Linked DNA regions of Homo sapiens. The protein of the gene in region 2 interacts with the protein of the main gene of each other region in a pairwise test. Each region holds a gene or a part of one and is shown on either strand. Other genes may lie near its edges.

The links. Proteins that work in one complex are often made in the same cells at the same time.
Region 1: the proteins of SDCCAG8 (region 2) and CEP131 interact in binary tests that used the Homo sapiens proteins (3 or more experiments, as listed by UniProt).

What each region holds. Positions count from the first base shown.
Region 1 is NC_000017.11:81,212,955-81,219,980, reverse strand, and holds part of CEP131 (centrosomal protein of 131 kDa), read left to right. Parts: coding exon 1-101; intron 102-7,026. UniProt on the Homo sapiens protein: Component of centriolar satellites contributing to the building of a complex and dynamic network required to regulate cilia/flagellum formation.
Region 2 is NC_000001.11:243,266,040-243,273,065, forward strand, and holds part of SDCCAG8 (serologically defined colon cancer antigen 8), read left to right. Parts: intron 1-1,581; exon of another isoform or gene 1,582-2,134; intron 2,135-4,052; exon of another isoform or gene 4,053-4,065; coding exon 4,066-4,218; intron 4,219-4,938; coding exon 4,939-5,024; intron 5,025-7,026. UniProt on the Homo sapiens protein: Plays a role in the establishment of cell polarity and epithelial lumen formation. Also plays an essential role in ciliogenesis and subsequent Hedgehog signaling pathway that requires the presence of intact primary cilia for pathway activation.

The sequences.
Region 1 (7,026 bases), on a different chromosome or scaffold from region 2:
CTCCGCCTGTGTCCCGGCGTCCTGGCAGTGCCGCCACCACCAAGCCCATCGTCCGCTCTGTCTCCGTGGTCACAGGCAGCGAGCAGAAGAGGAAGGTGCTGGTGAGTACTGTGGCCTAGGAGTCCGGGCCCCTGCCTCCTGGAGGGCTGTTGTTCAGTTGGCATCTGACCCCTGGGTCCAGCTCCACAGGTGAACAAGTGCCTCACATCTGGACATGCTGGATCCTCGTGGCTGTTCCAGGAGGCAGGTAGGACTTGAGTCTTACAGGCGTGGGTGCTGAATCACTAGAAAGTCAAGCCAGAGCTTGGATTCTTTCAGCAACAGCCCCAGGCCTCCTGTGCCACCGCCCTTTGGATTTGTTTGAATCCTCAGGAAATGGGGTTGGCTGGGCTCGGTGGCTCACGCCTGTAATCTCAGCACTTTGGGAGGCCGAGGCAGGCGGGTCATCTGAGGTCAGCAGTTCAAGACCAGCCTGACCAACATGGTGAAACTCCGTCTCTACTAAAGATACAAAAAAAAATTAGCCGGGCATGGTGGTGCATGCCTGTAATCCTAGCTACTCGGGAGGCTGAGGCAGGAGATTTGCTCGAACCCAGGAGGCAGAGGTTGCGGTGAGCCGAGATCGTGCCGTTGCACTCCAGCCTGGCGACAGAGTGAGATGCCATCTCAAAAAAAAAAAAAAAAGAAAGAAATGGGGTTGACCTGTGGGGAGGGGTGATGAGCTCCTGGTGGCCTTGGAGAAACCTAGACGGGTGTGTGGGTGTGTGGGCAGCAGGACAGCCGTGGGAGCTTCGGGGTGAGAGCTGCCTTTCCTGCCCACCTCTGGGAGTAGGGAGGAGGGTGGGTGGTTCCCAGATGGGGGCTGTGAAAGGCAGGCCGGGCCTGCTGCACCCTGAGTTGGTGTCTGCCAGGCCCAGTCTTTGGGGCAAGGGAGGAATCGAGCCGCTCTGTGGGGGTTGGGGCAGAGCCTGACCAGAGTCTGGCCTGAGCTTCCGAATAGCAAGGGCCTGGGGGCCTTGGCTTCCATGCGGCAGCCGGTCTGGGGCTCCCTGCCTGAGGTCCGTGCCAGGCAACATAGCAGGGCAGAGAGAAGGGGTCTGGAGGGCAGTTGAGGCTTCCCACAGGAACCCCTGGCAGGCCCAGGCCAGGGTTCCACTGTGAATAAAAGGCTTGGACCTCCCCCTTCTCCTTGAAAAAGTTATTCCTGTGTCTGCCCTAGAAGCACCCCCAGGTGGGCAGGGTGTGGCCCGCCAGACGGCTAGCCGAGTTCCGGGGTAAGGGCAGCCGGGCCAGTAGCGGACCCTTGGACCAAGCAGGTTCCCAAAGCCTGGGCCAGCAGGGCGGGGACCCGGGATGTCCTGATGTGTCATTGTGGCCGGCAGGTTGTCTAAAGATGTGGTACGCCTCTAGGCATTTACAGACGTAAGCTGTGAAAATAAAAATATGCTGCACTGTTTTAGCAGAGGGGTAACCAGCTTGGGCTAGAGCCGTCTCTGAGCCTGCTGCCTCTCCTGTCCGCAGCCCTGCTCCTGCGTCACTGACCCCCTCGCCCACCTGCCTTGGCCCCTCCCGCTGTTTCTAAAGCCCTAGGTTCATGGCACATGGGGCGGGGAAGACGCACTCGAAATCGCAGATCTGGGCTGGGCGAGGTGGCTCACGCCCGTGATCCCAGCACTTTGGGAGGTTGAGGCGGGTGGATCACCTGAGGTCAGGAGTTCAATACCAGCCTGGCCAACATAGTGAAACCCTGCCTCTACTGAAAATGCAAAAATTAGCCGGGCGTGGTGGCGCGCACCCTTAATCCCAGCTACTCAGGAGGCTGAGACAGGAGAGTTGCTTGAACCCGGGCGGAGGAGGCTGCAGTGAGCCGAGATCATGCCACTGTACTCCAGCCTGGGCGAAAGAGCAAGACTCTGTCTCAAAAAAAGAAAGAAAGAAAGAAAGAGGGAGGGGGAGGGGGAGGGAGAGGGAGAGGGAGAAGGAGAAAGAAAGAAATTGCAGCTCTCTTGTTGTGTGGAGACTGTTGTAAAAGTTTCCGGGCTTTCTAGTAGATGGTCTTTCGGCGGCATGGCCAGGCTCTATCCGCGGCCGACCCAGGCACCTAACCACACTCCCAGCCTTTCTGCTGGGAAATGTTCTGTTGCTGAGTAGAGGTTCAAAGCCACAGCGAGCGCTACTCATATCGATCCCTCCTTTCCTCGGCTGGTACCATTGCCCGCTCCCGCAGTGTTGAGTGGCGACTGCTAACAGTCCCCTCGTTCATGGAATGTTCCAGCTGTTCACTTCAATTCTTTGAGGCCCTCGCTCGATCCGAGACGGCCCCACCCCTGCATGCCTGTCTGCCTTCTGTTGTGCCCATGGTGGGAGCTCGGGAACTGCTGGTGGAAGAGGAACCCCCGCCAGTGTGTGACGTGACCTCAGGGGTTTCTGTTGTGCCCGGTCCCCATCCTCTCGGCCACCTGCCCTGCTACCACTCAGTCTCATCGGGATTCCTGGAGAGCATTTGTTTTGGCCAGGCATGGCTTCACACCTGTACAAGGCGGCACGTGATTCTCTTCCTCCTGGTGTTTGTGGGTGGGGTGGGGTGCTGTCCCCTGGCTCGGAGACCTTCTCGGTGGCCATTGGCCTGGGGTTTCCACTCTACCCCTTGTCTCTAAAGATCTTCCTGCGTCCACGGCCTGCTGTCCCGGGATTCCCCATCCAGGATGTAACTGCAGTTCCTGCTGGTCTTCTGGCTCAAGAGATGTCGGTGCCAGACTGTAGAGGGTCCCTCTTCCTTGCCCCAGCTGTGTGCCCACCTGATCCTCTAGCCCCCTAGATCATTATTCACTCTGGTTCCCTTCCCCTTAAAGAAAAGAGGTCTTTAAATCCCAAGAGCACAAGCTCACTGGGGAACAGACATCACTGTGCATATGTGTCATGGCCATGGGGGCCACCTGCCCCTCCCTGGGCGATGTTGCCTCCTTCTTGCAGGTGGAGTTTAGGGTTTTTAGTCCATGACTTGATTTACCATCTGAGCATGAGTGGTGCCTTTCCACCGTGGTGTCCGTCAGTGAGTGGCAGCCCCTTCATCCCTCCCCTGACATCCCTTATCTTCCTCTTGGAGGCTGCGAAACTGACCCCAGGAAAATGGAGACAGGATGAAGGGCACCCATAATCCCATGGCCCTGATGCAATGACTGGTGCCATTTTGGGGGATGATTTCAAAATTCCTACCATGTGTTTTGAATAGGCCATTCACACCCACCATTTGGGAAAAGGGGGCTCATTGAGCAGTGAGCCTGTCCTGCCCGACCTTGCGGGCCTCTCCTAGGCGGCCACTGTTCTGTTTCTCCTGCACCCACACTTACTCTGGGCACACAGGCATCAGTGATGCTGGAGATGTGTTGGAACAAGTGCCGTATCCGTCAGCTGCGTGGGGCTCCTGCATTCTCTTTTCTTTTTCTTTTTAAGACGGGGTCTTGCTCTGTTGCCCAGGCTGGAGTGCAGTGGAGAAACCACAGCTTACTGCAGCCTCCACCTCCCGGACACAAGTGATCCTCTTACCTCAGCATCCTGAGTAGCATGGATTACAGGTGCTCACCACCCTGCCCAGCTAATTTTTAATTTTTTTTTTCTTTTGAGACAGACTTTTGCTCTTTTTGCCCAGGCTGGAGTGCATTTGTGAGATCTCGGCTCACTGCAGCCTCTGCCTCCCGGGTTCAAGGGATTCTCCTGCCTCTGCCTCCCAAGAAGCTGGGATTACAGGCATGCACCACCATGCCCGGCTAATTTTGTATTTTTAGTAGCGACGGGGTTTCGCCATGTTGGTCAGGCTGGTCTTGAACTCTTGACCTCAGGTGATCCTCCTGCCTCAGCCTCCCGAAGTGCTGGGATTACAGGTGTGAGCCACCACACCCAGCCTACTAATTTTTAATTTTTTTGTAGGGACAGGGGTCTCACTAGGTTGCTGGTCCTTAACTCCTGGGCTGAAGCGATCCTCCCACCTCGGCCTCCCAAAGTGCTGGGATTACGGGTGTGGGCCGCTGCACCTGACCCTGCTCCCGCTTTCCTTACATTGTTTTGTAGCAGCTGACAATAGTTCATCAGATGATGCACCAGAACTTCACCCAGTGCTCCTCTGGATTTTCCTTATCATAGTACCAAGAGTGGCACAGCAAATACCCTGTGTCTTTGCCATTTTGCATACATGTAAATACGCCTGTAGAATAAATCCTAAAGGATAACTACTGGGTCAGAGCATAAGTCCATTTAAAATTTTGAAAGGGGGGCCAGGTGCGGTGGCCCGTGCCTGTAATCCCAGCACTTTGGGACGCCGAGGTGGGCAGATTGCTTGAGGTCAGGAGTTCGAGACCAGCCTGGCCAACACGGTGAAACCTCGTCTCTACTAAAAATAGAAAAAATAGCTGGACGTGGTGGCAGGCACCTGTAATGCCAGCTACACAGGAAGCTAAGGCAGGAGAACTGATTTAACCCGGAAGCTGGAGGTTGCAGTGAGCCAAGATCGCACCACCACACTCTAGCCTGGGTGACAGCGAGACTCCATTTCAAAAAAAATTAAATAAATAAAAAAATTTGAAAGGGGGCCGGGAGTGGTGGCCAATATCTGTAATCCCAGCACTTTGCGTGGCTGCGGTGGGAGGATCACTTGAGGCCAGGAGTTTGAGACCAGCCTGGGCAACATAGTGAGACCCCTGTCTCTACAAAAAAATTAAAAAATTAGCCGAGTGTGGTGGTGCATGCCTGTAGTCCCAGCTACATGGGAGGCTGGGGCAGGAGGATGGCTTGAACCCAGAAAGTTTGAGGCTGCAGTGAGCTATGATCATGCCACTGCTCTCCAGCCTGGGCAACAGAGTGAGACTCTATCTTTTAAAATTAAAATTAAAACTAAATTGTAAATTTTTGGCCAGGCGCGGTGGCTCATGCCTGTAATCCCAGCACTTTGGGAGGTTGAGGCAAGCAGATCACGAGGCCAGGAGATTGAGACCATCCTGGCTAACACGGTGAAACCCCATCTCTACTAAAAATACAAAAAAAAAAATTAGCCGGGCGTGGTGGCAGGCACCTGTAGTCGCGGCTACTCGGGAGGCTGAGGCAGGAGAATGGCGTGAACCCAGGAGGCGGAACTTGCAGTGAGCCGAGATCGCGCCACTGCACTCCACCCTGGGCGACAGAGCGAGATTCCGTCTCAAAAAAAATTTTTTTTTTTGATAGGCATTGCCAAGTTGCTGTCCGTAAAGATCATTGCCCTAAGTCACACTCGCATCACAGGGTGCCACGGGGCCTGCTCCCTCGTGCTCTGGTTGGCACACGTGCAGCACAGTTTTGGCCTTTACAGGATCCATATGTAACAAAAGATATCTGACTGTACTACCTTTTAGTTTACTTTTTACTTTTTATTTTATTTTTTTCTTTTTCTTTTTTGAGATGAAGTTTCACTCCTGTCACCTAGGCTGGAGTGCAATGGTGTGATTTCACCTCACCGCAATCTCTGTCTCCTGGGTTCAAGTGATTCTCCTGCCTCAGCCTCCCGAGTAGCTGGGATTACAGGCGCCTGCCACCATGCCGGGCTAAGTTTTGTATTTTTAGTAGAGACAGGATTTCACCATGTTGGCCAGGCTGGTCTCAAACTACTGACCTCAAGTGAATCCGCCCGCCTTGGCCTCCCAAAGTGCTGGGCTTACAGGCGTGAGCCTCCGGCGTGACTGTACGATTTTTAAAAATAAACCTTTTATGTTAGTATAGTTTTAAATTTATAGAAAAATTGGAAAGTGCAGGGTGTTCCCCTGTACCGCACCCAGTCTCTGCTATTTGAATATCTTACATTATGATGGGACGTGTACAATTAACAAGTCATTATTGGTAAATCACTGACTAAAGTCCACACTTGATTTGTATTTTTGCAGTTTTTCTTTTCTGTCCCAGGATCCCACATGATTTTTGGGCTGTGGGTCTCAGGCTTGTTTGGGCTGTGAGTTTCTCAGACTCTCCTTGTTTTTGATGACCTTCGAGTTTTGGGGAGAGCTGGTCAGGGATTTTACAGAATGGCCCCCTGTTGGCCCTTGCCTGATATTTTTCTCGTGATCAGACTGGGTGGTGGATGGGTTCTAGGAGGAAGGCCACAGAGGTAAAGTACTCTTCTCACCCCATCCTGTCTGGGGTCCACACTGTCCATGTGACCTCTCACTGGTGATGCTGCTGGCCTTGGTCCCCTGGCCAAGGTGGAGGGTCAGGCTTCTCCACTGTGAGGTCGCCCATCCCCTGTGCTCTCTGGAAGGAAGTCGCTTTGTTCAGCCCACATGGAAGGGGTGGGGAGTTTTGCTCCCCCTCCTTTAGAGAAGAGCATCTATAGAAGTTATTTGGAATTCTTCTACACAGGAGATTTGTCTGTTCACCCTCATTTATAATTTTTTTTTTTTTTTGAGACAGTGTCTCACGCTGTCGCCCAGGCTGCAGTGCAGTGGCATAATCTTGGCTCACTGCAATCTCCGCCTCCCGGGTTCAAGCGATTTTCCTATCTCAGCCTCCTGAGTAGCTAGAACTACAGGCGTGTGCCACCACACCTGACTAATTTTTGTATTTCAGTAGAGATGGGGTTTCACCATGTTGGCCAGGCTGGTCTCGAACTCCTGACCTCAAGTGATCCTCCTGCCTTGGCTTCCCAAAGTGCTGGGATTACAGGCATGAGCCACTGCACCTGGCCCCACTTATTAATTTTTTCAATCATTTATTATAATGGACTCGTGGATATTTATTTTACACTTCAAGTTATAATTCAATGCTAGTTTGCTTATTTTGTTGCTCTCATTGTCACAGCTTTGGCCACTGGGAACTTTCAGGTGGCTCCTGGGTCCCTGTGTCATTGCCCATCACTTTGTCTTCTGAGCACGTCCTTATTTCTGGCCCTATAAACTGCTCCAGCCTCATCTTGTCTATTTCCTCCTCCAGTCCTAGAATCAGCCATTTCTTCAAGAAGCCCCGGTTCTTTTTCTTGGAGAGTGGTCTCAGAGACCAAGGTCTGGGAGC
Region 2 (7,026 bases):
TTTTATTGTAAATTGACAATTTATAATTGTATAAATTTATGGGTTACAAAGTGATGTCATAAATTGTGGATACAATGTGGAATAATTAAATAAAGCTAGTTAACATATCCAATACTTCCAATACATTTCTGTGATGAGAACATCAATTTTGAAATGTGTAATACTCCATTATTAAGTATATGCACCACACTGTACAATAGAACTCAAAAAAAGTATAAAACATATTCTTCCTGTCTGAGATTTTGTACCCTTTGACCATCACTGAATTTTTTTTTCTTTTTCTTTTTTTTTTTTTATGAGACAGTCTCACTCTGTCACCCAGCCTGGAATGCAGTGGTGTGATCTCGGCTCACTGCAACCTCCGCCCCCCGGCTTCAAGCAACTCTGTTGCCTCAGCCTCCCCAGCAGCCAGGACCACAGGCACACAACACCACAACCTGCCAACCTTTTTTGTATTTTTAGTACAGATGGGGTTTTGTCACGTTGTTCAGGCTGGTCTTGAACTCTTGACCTCAGGTGATCCACCCACCTTAGCCTCCCAAAGTCCCAGGACCACAGACATGAGCCACTGTGCCTGGACTAAAATTTTTATGAGACAAAATATCAATTTCAAAACAGCATCAAAAAGTGAGTAGGCCAGGCACGGTGGCTCATGCCTGCAATCCCAGCACTTTGGGAGGCCGAGGTGTATTTTTCTGTACTAAAAATACAAAAGTATTTGTCTCTATTATAAATACAAAAAAAAAAAAAGAAATTAGCTGGGCACTGTGGCACATGCCTGCAATCCCAGCCACTCAGGAGGCTGAGGAAGGAGAACCATCTGAACCCTGGAGGCAGAGCCACAGTGAGCTGAGACTGCACTACTTGCACTCCAGCCTGGGCAACAAGAGTGCAACTTCGTCTCAAAAAAAAAAAAAAAAAAATGCTGGGCGCGGTGGCTCACGCTTGTAACCCCAGCACTTTGGGAGGCCGAGGCAGGCGGATCACAAAGTCAGGAGATCGAGACCATCCTCGCTAACACGGTGAAACCCTGTCTGTACTAAAAGTACAAAAATTAGCTGCGCGTGGTGGCGTGTAACTGTAGTCCCAGTTTCTCGGGAGGCTGAGGCAGGAGAATGGCGTGAACCTGAGAGGCGGAGGTTGTAGTGAGTGAAGATCGCACCACTACACTGCAGCCTGGGCGACAGAGCGAGACTCCGTCTTAAAAAAAAAAAAAAGAAATATACATGATAGGAATTCCAGGAATCTTATGGATTCTTCTTTTAAGGTCCCGGTCACTGGGCGTGGTGGCTTACGCCTGTAATCCCAAGACTTTTGGAGGCTGAGACGGGCGGATTTCACCTGAGGTCGGGAGTTTGAGACCAGCCTGACCAACGTGGAGAAACCCCGTCTCTACTAAAAAAAAATACAGAATTAGCCGGGCGTGGTGACAGGTACCTGTAATCCCAGCTATTGGGGAGGCTGAGGCAGGAGAATCGCTTGAACCCGAGAGGCGGAGGGTGCGGTGAGCCGAGATTGCGCCATCGCACTCCAGCCTGGGCGACAAGAGCCAAACTCCCTCTCAAGAAAAAAAAAAAAAAAGTCCCGGTCAACTGTGGGCACAATGTAACACTTACACACACTTAGGCTGAGTTACTCTCTGTACTAAGCAGTCATGTGCATAGGTTCCTGTGTGTGTACATGGTAATTGTTCAAATCTTGGATCCTTGGCGATCCTTAGAGCCACTCAATACTTCTGCCCCAATTTCTCAATTTCAGCCATTACACAATCAGTTATACAAGGGATACACTTGACATGCAGACAGCCCATCATTGACTGCACTAAGTCCAGTTTGGCTTTTATGGAAAAGTTGATAAAGTTGGTATCAACGAGGATGTGGTAAGGTGGGCCCAGCTGTGTATTATATTGGCAAAATAATCAGGAAAGGTGTTGCGGAACTTCTCTTTCCTTTAACGCGCTGGGATCCTTCTTTTCTTTCTCTTTAGGTTTTAATCTATCCTTTTCTTTAAGCCTCTGATCTCTGAGACTAAGCGTTTGCTTCATGGTTGTATAGTTCCTCATTTTCTTTTGCTTCCTCATGGTCACACCACACTCCTGTTTCTTCCGTAATCACCAACGGTGCAATGCTTTTACCTGGAATACATTTTTATGTTAGTCAAACTGTCTCGTTCCTTTCTAATAGATTCAATAAAGATAAGTGTTTTATTCGTGGATTTAAGGGCATAAATCTAAAGCTCCATGAACTGAATTGCTTATCATGTAACACTTTGATTTTCCTTTTCCATGACCAAATCGCTTTTCTATTCTATTTTCTAATACTAAGTTATTGTAAAACTATCACAGTTTCATATATTCCCAAAACCAGGAATGCGTCTTATCTGAACTTCCTTAAACTCATGATGAGTCAGAGGAGGCCAGTTTTCATTAGTAATCAGCGCCAAATTCATTTCAAAGAAAGATCTGTGTGGACATAGGATTGGTATGGAGAAAAATATGGTGATAAATTAACTGTGTCTCTTGTATAGTTGAGTAATAGAATTTCATTGTCGAACCCTGACCTGAAATACATGTTTTCTTTTATCAAAGTAGAAAATGAGTTGCTGCAAGTAAAGAAACTGTATTAGATATTGTATAACAGAGACTTTTTTTTTCTATTAAGTACTAACATTGCTTTTGTTTCTGTTCCAAACTTTGAAATCAGTGCACTTGGACAAAATGGAAACTGCTTTTCAAGGTCCTACAGAATATATGTTTATAAATGTATTTTTATACATGGTTGGTAATGAATCAGGTCTCTTTCGTGCCATTGCAGTTAGAGGGCCTCTGGTGCTGGAGTCCTCTGGAGGACTGGGCTGTCAGAGTGGGGCAGCGGGGTGCAGCGCGGGGAGGGCTTTTCTCTTTCTTCGTGCCTCTGGTGCTGGAGTCCTCTGGAGGACTGGGCTGTCAGAGTGGGGCAGCGGGGTGCAGTGCGGGGAGGGCTTTTCTCTTTCTTCATGGGGTCTCAGGGCCTCTCTCTTCCTCTCCACGTATGCTCTTCACAGGTCTCTCCAGCAGGGTAGTCAGATATCTTACATAGCGGCTTAGGGCTCCCAAAAGCAAACATTCCAAGAGGAAGCAGAAGCTGCCAGTCCTTTTAAAGATGAGGCTTGGGTGTGACATGGTATAACTTTTATTGCATTCTATTGGTTAATGCAGATTACAGGCCCAGTCAGTTTCAGATTAGAAGAGAACAAGGGAATGAGGCTGGGTTCCTTGGAGGCTATTTTTTTTTTTTTTTTTTTCTGAAACAGTCTCGCTCTCTTGCCAGGCTGGAGTGCAGTGGTGCGATCTCGGCTCGCTGCAACCCCTTGGAGGCTATTTTTAGAGATGAACTATCACAGTAATATACCTTAAAATACTTCATTTTAGACAGTTTTTGTGTGTTCTAGGGGTGGTCAGTTGCACTAACCAAGAATCTATGAGGTGTGGTTGGCCAGCAGTATATAGAAAGAGCTGTACCGCCGGGGCTGCCACTATAAGCACTTCAGCTATGCAAATTTTGATCAAAACTAGGCCAGACATGTGGATGTCTCTTGGTGGGGGAGGGATTTCCTGTCCCCAGGGACAATGAGGCTTCCCTAGGTTGGAACTGGGTGTGACGCAGTCCCTTTTGCTGGCTCTTCCCACCTCCCCACTGCTCCTTTCGTCCCCCTCTGTCTCCAAGTTGGTAAAGGAGTCAGGCATGGTGGGAAGGAGAGCACTTCCCTTAGCAAGTTATTGTTTAATGGGAGCTGGTGGGAAGAGTTCTGTCATTTAATCCTTGCCGGTGGTGCTATATGTAGTGAAATCAACTGCTACAGTGGTAGGGGCCTTAGAGATCATCAAGTCCTACCTCTAAACCATGAAGTTAATCTTCTCTCACCATCTTTGGCACATCCCTCAGCAAGCTAGAAACAGAACTCTGCGTTTTTTCCATAAAGTACGAGAAATAATGATTTCACCTTTAAAAACTGCCTTCCTGAGTAAGTGTCCGTTTGGTCAACCAGACTCCATGGGTCCTAACTTTCGTCAGGTTGTTCTTGCAGAACATGCCAGCAGAAGCATTCACCAACTGACATGTGCCCTGAAAGAAGGCGATGTCACTATTGGAGAAGATGCACCAAATCTTTCTTTTAGCACCAGTGTGGGAAATGAGGACGCCAGGACAGCCTGGCCCGAATTACAACAGAGCCATGCTGGTGAGTGTGAATGTCAATCCTAGTCTGAATGATGCATAGTGAATTTTTTAAACTCCGTAGAATAATAACTCCATTCATTCTTCATTCTGCTGCTATGATGTTATTCCTCAAACACAAATCAGATAATTTAATTCCCTCGCTTAATCTTGTTTTCCTTTGACTTCCCAATGCTTATAGGCTAAAGTCCAAAATTCTTAGTTATAAAATAACAGTGTTTTCCTAAGATAGCTCTAACCTGCCTCTTCGGCTCATCTTTGTGTACTTCTCATGCTAATCATCCATCTCACAACTCATATTCTAGTTATAATAACCTCCTCTCTATGCTTTTATGCTTTGACATGTGCAGTGACTTCTAACTGGAATTTTTCTTATCCTTTTCTGCTTGGTGAACTCCTTCCTGTTTATCCTTGCAGTGTTATCTCCTCTGTGAAAACAAGCACAATTAGCTTCTTCCTCTTCTTGTAGCACTGTGCATAGCTTTAGGTCTACATACAAACTTATTTTATATCTATTAGTGTCTCTCTCTTCCTTGCTAGATTCTTAGCTCTTAAGGGGTAGAAATTCTTTTTTTTTTTTTATGTTGGTCTTGTATCCCCAGTTGATAGCAGAATTCTTGATGCATAATATATCAGCAATTTTTATTAGTTGGAAGGATGGATGGGTGGTAAGAAACCATGGATCTCAAATAAGGTTAATAAACCCTCTGCTTTTGCTCTATAGTTAATCAGCTCAAAGATTTGTTGCGCCAACAAGCAGATAAGGAAAGTGAAGTATCTCCGTCAAGAAGAAGAAAAATGTCCCCCTTGGTAAGTATCAACTTTTCCAAGTTGACAAAGCATTCCTGTGTTTTACTGTATTGTGTTATTTTGTAGTACATGTTGCAGAAAAAATTTAAGCATGGCATACTAATAGTGAAAAACATTAAAAGTAATTCTCTTCCCTCTGATTATTTTGGCTGAAAAAATAGATTTCCATGGCAGAGGGAATCTTGATTTTTTAAATTTATTATTCACTTGGAAAATGGGAGCAAGGGAATAGTTTGGAGAATTTATTTTGCAACTGTTAGCAAAATATGTAATATAAATATATAATATATAATAAATTAATATAATAAATTATATGTCAGAATATATGTAAAAGATAAAGTCATTATTTTAGTAATTTCTTTTTTAGAGGGTCATATCTATTATTGATCATTTTTAGAAGTTACTTAATTATAATTGTAGCCCTACTTTGTAATATTTTTTAAATTTTGAGTGTCAAAATAATACATTTTATTTTTAATTAATTAATTAATTTTTTTGAGACAGAGTCTCATTCTGTTGCTCAGGCTAGAGTGCAGTGGCATGATCTCGCCTCACTACAACCTCTGCCTCCCTGGTTCAAGCGATTCTCCTGCCTCAGCCTCCCTAGTATTTGGGTTTACAGATGTGCACTACCACACCAGGCTAATTTTTTGTATTTTTAGTAGAGATGGGGTTTCACCATATTGGCTAGGCTGGTCTCGAACTCTGAACCTCAGGAAATCCATCAGCCTCGGCCTCCCAAAGCACCGGGATTATAGGTGTGAGCCACCGCGCCTGGCCTCAAAATAATACGTTTTAATATGTAATGTTCTATATGTTAAAATATATGGTTATAAAATAGTATGATATATAAGAAGTGGTGCTGTATTTCTTCTGAAGTTGTTTGTTATTGCTTTGACAGAGTGTATTATTTCTGATTAAAGCATTTTATATGCTAAAGGCTGAGATAGATGTGAGTGAAAGCACTCTGGACCAGATTTAAGTGGACAAAATAATAGTCAAGGGCTTAGTTCTATCTAGGGTCTATCACATACTCTCTAAGATATTGTGCCTGTCTCACAGAGTTTTTGGAATAATGAGATAAGATTACATACTTAAAATTCTTTAGAAACCTATGAAGTGTTACATAAACATAACATGCATAGCAGCAAGTAACCACCTCACATTTTCAATGTGTTTTCTAGTTCAATACAATGCCTGTATGCTGAAAAGTGTGGAGACATGTCACTTTCTTTTCTTCACCACTGAAATATCAGAGTATCACTCCCATACGAACACTCCATTCCAGGCTGACACATACTTTTAAGCTTAATTCCTACTTTAGAGAAATGTACTTCATATGCATATTCTAAATTTATAGATACAGATTTTATAATTTTAGTAAAACATCTCATCATTTAATGAATTTATTACTATTGACATCTGGTTTCTAGCTTGCTCTTAAGCACAGACTGGTGGAATGCTTTTAAATCTACTAGATGAAGTTGCTTTATCTGTTGAATGCTCAGACATGCTTATTTGCCTTTTAAAGTCTGAGCAGTGATATTATGGAGCTTACTGAATCCAGACAGGCAGGAAGACCTTCACTAAGAGAATCAGTTTAGTACATACAGAGTGCACTTTAAAATACACAAGTCTATTTATATGGAGCTATGTAAAAGAATGGAACTTAGACTCTATATGTATACAGCCTACATGTAATAATTATAAACCATAATAGTAATAATTAGCTTTTTAAGATTATACCTTTAGAATGCACTTTCATAGCCAGTATAACATATTAGAAATACATGCATATATTGAGAGTAAAACTGAGGCACTGTTGAGATGGAAAAAAAGTTATTACTTATTGTCTTAAAATGTAGATATCTAAACTAAAGCCCTTCAAAGTAGACACAAATGATTTCATGTGAACATTTTTCATACAATATTGGCTTGAGCTTTTTATTTTTCACATTGACTTCCTCCTGTATACTCATAGTAGTAATTTATATTTGCCTAT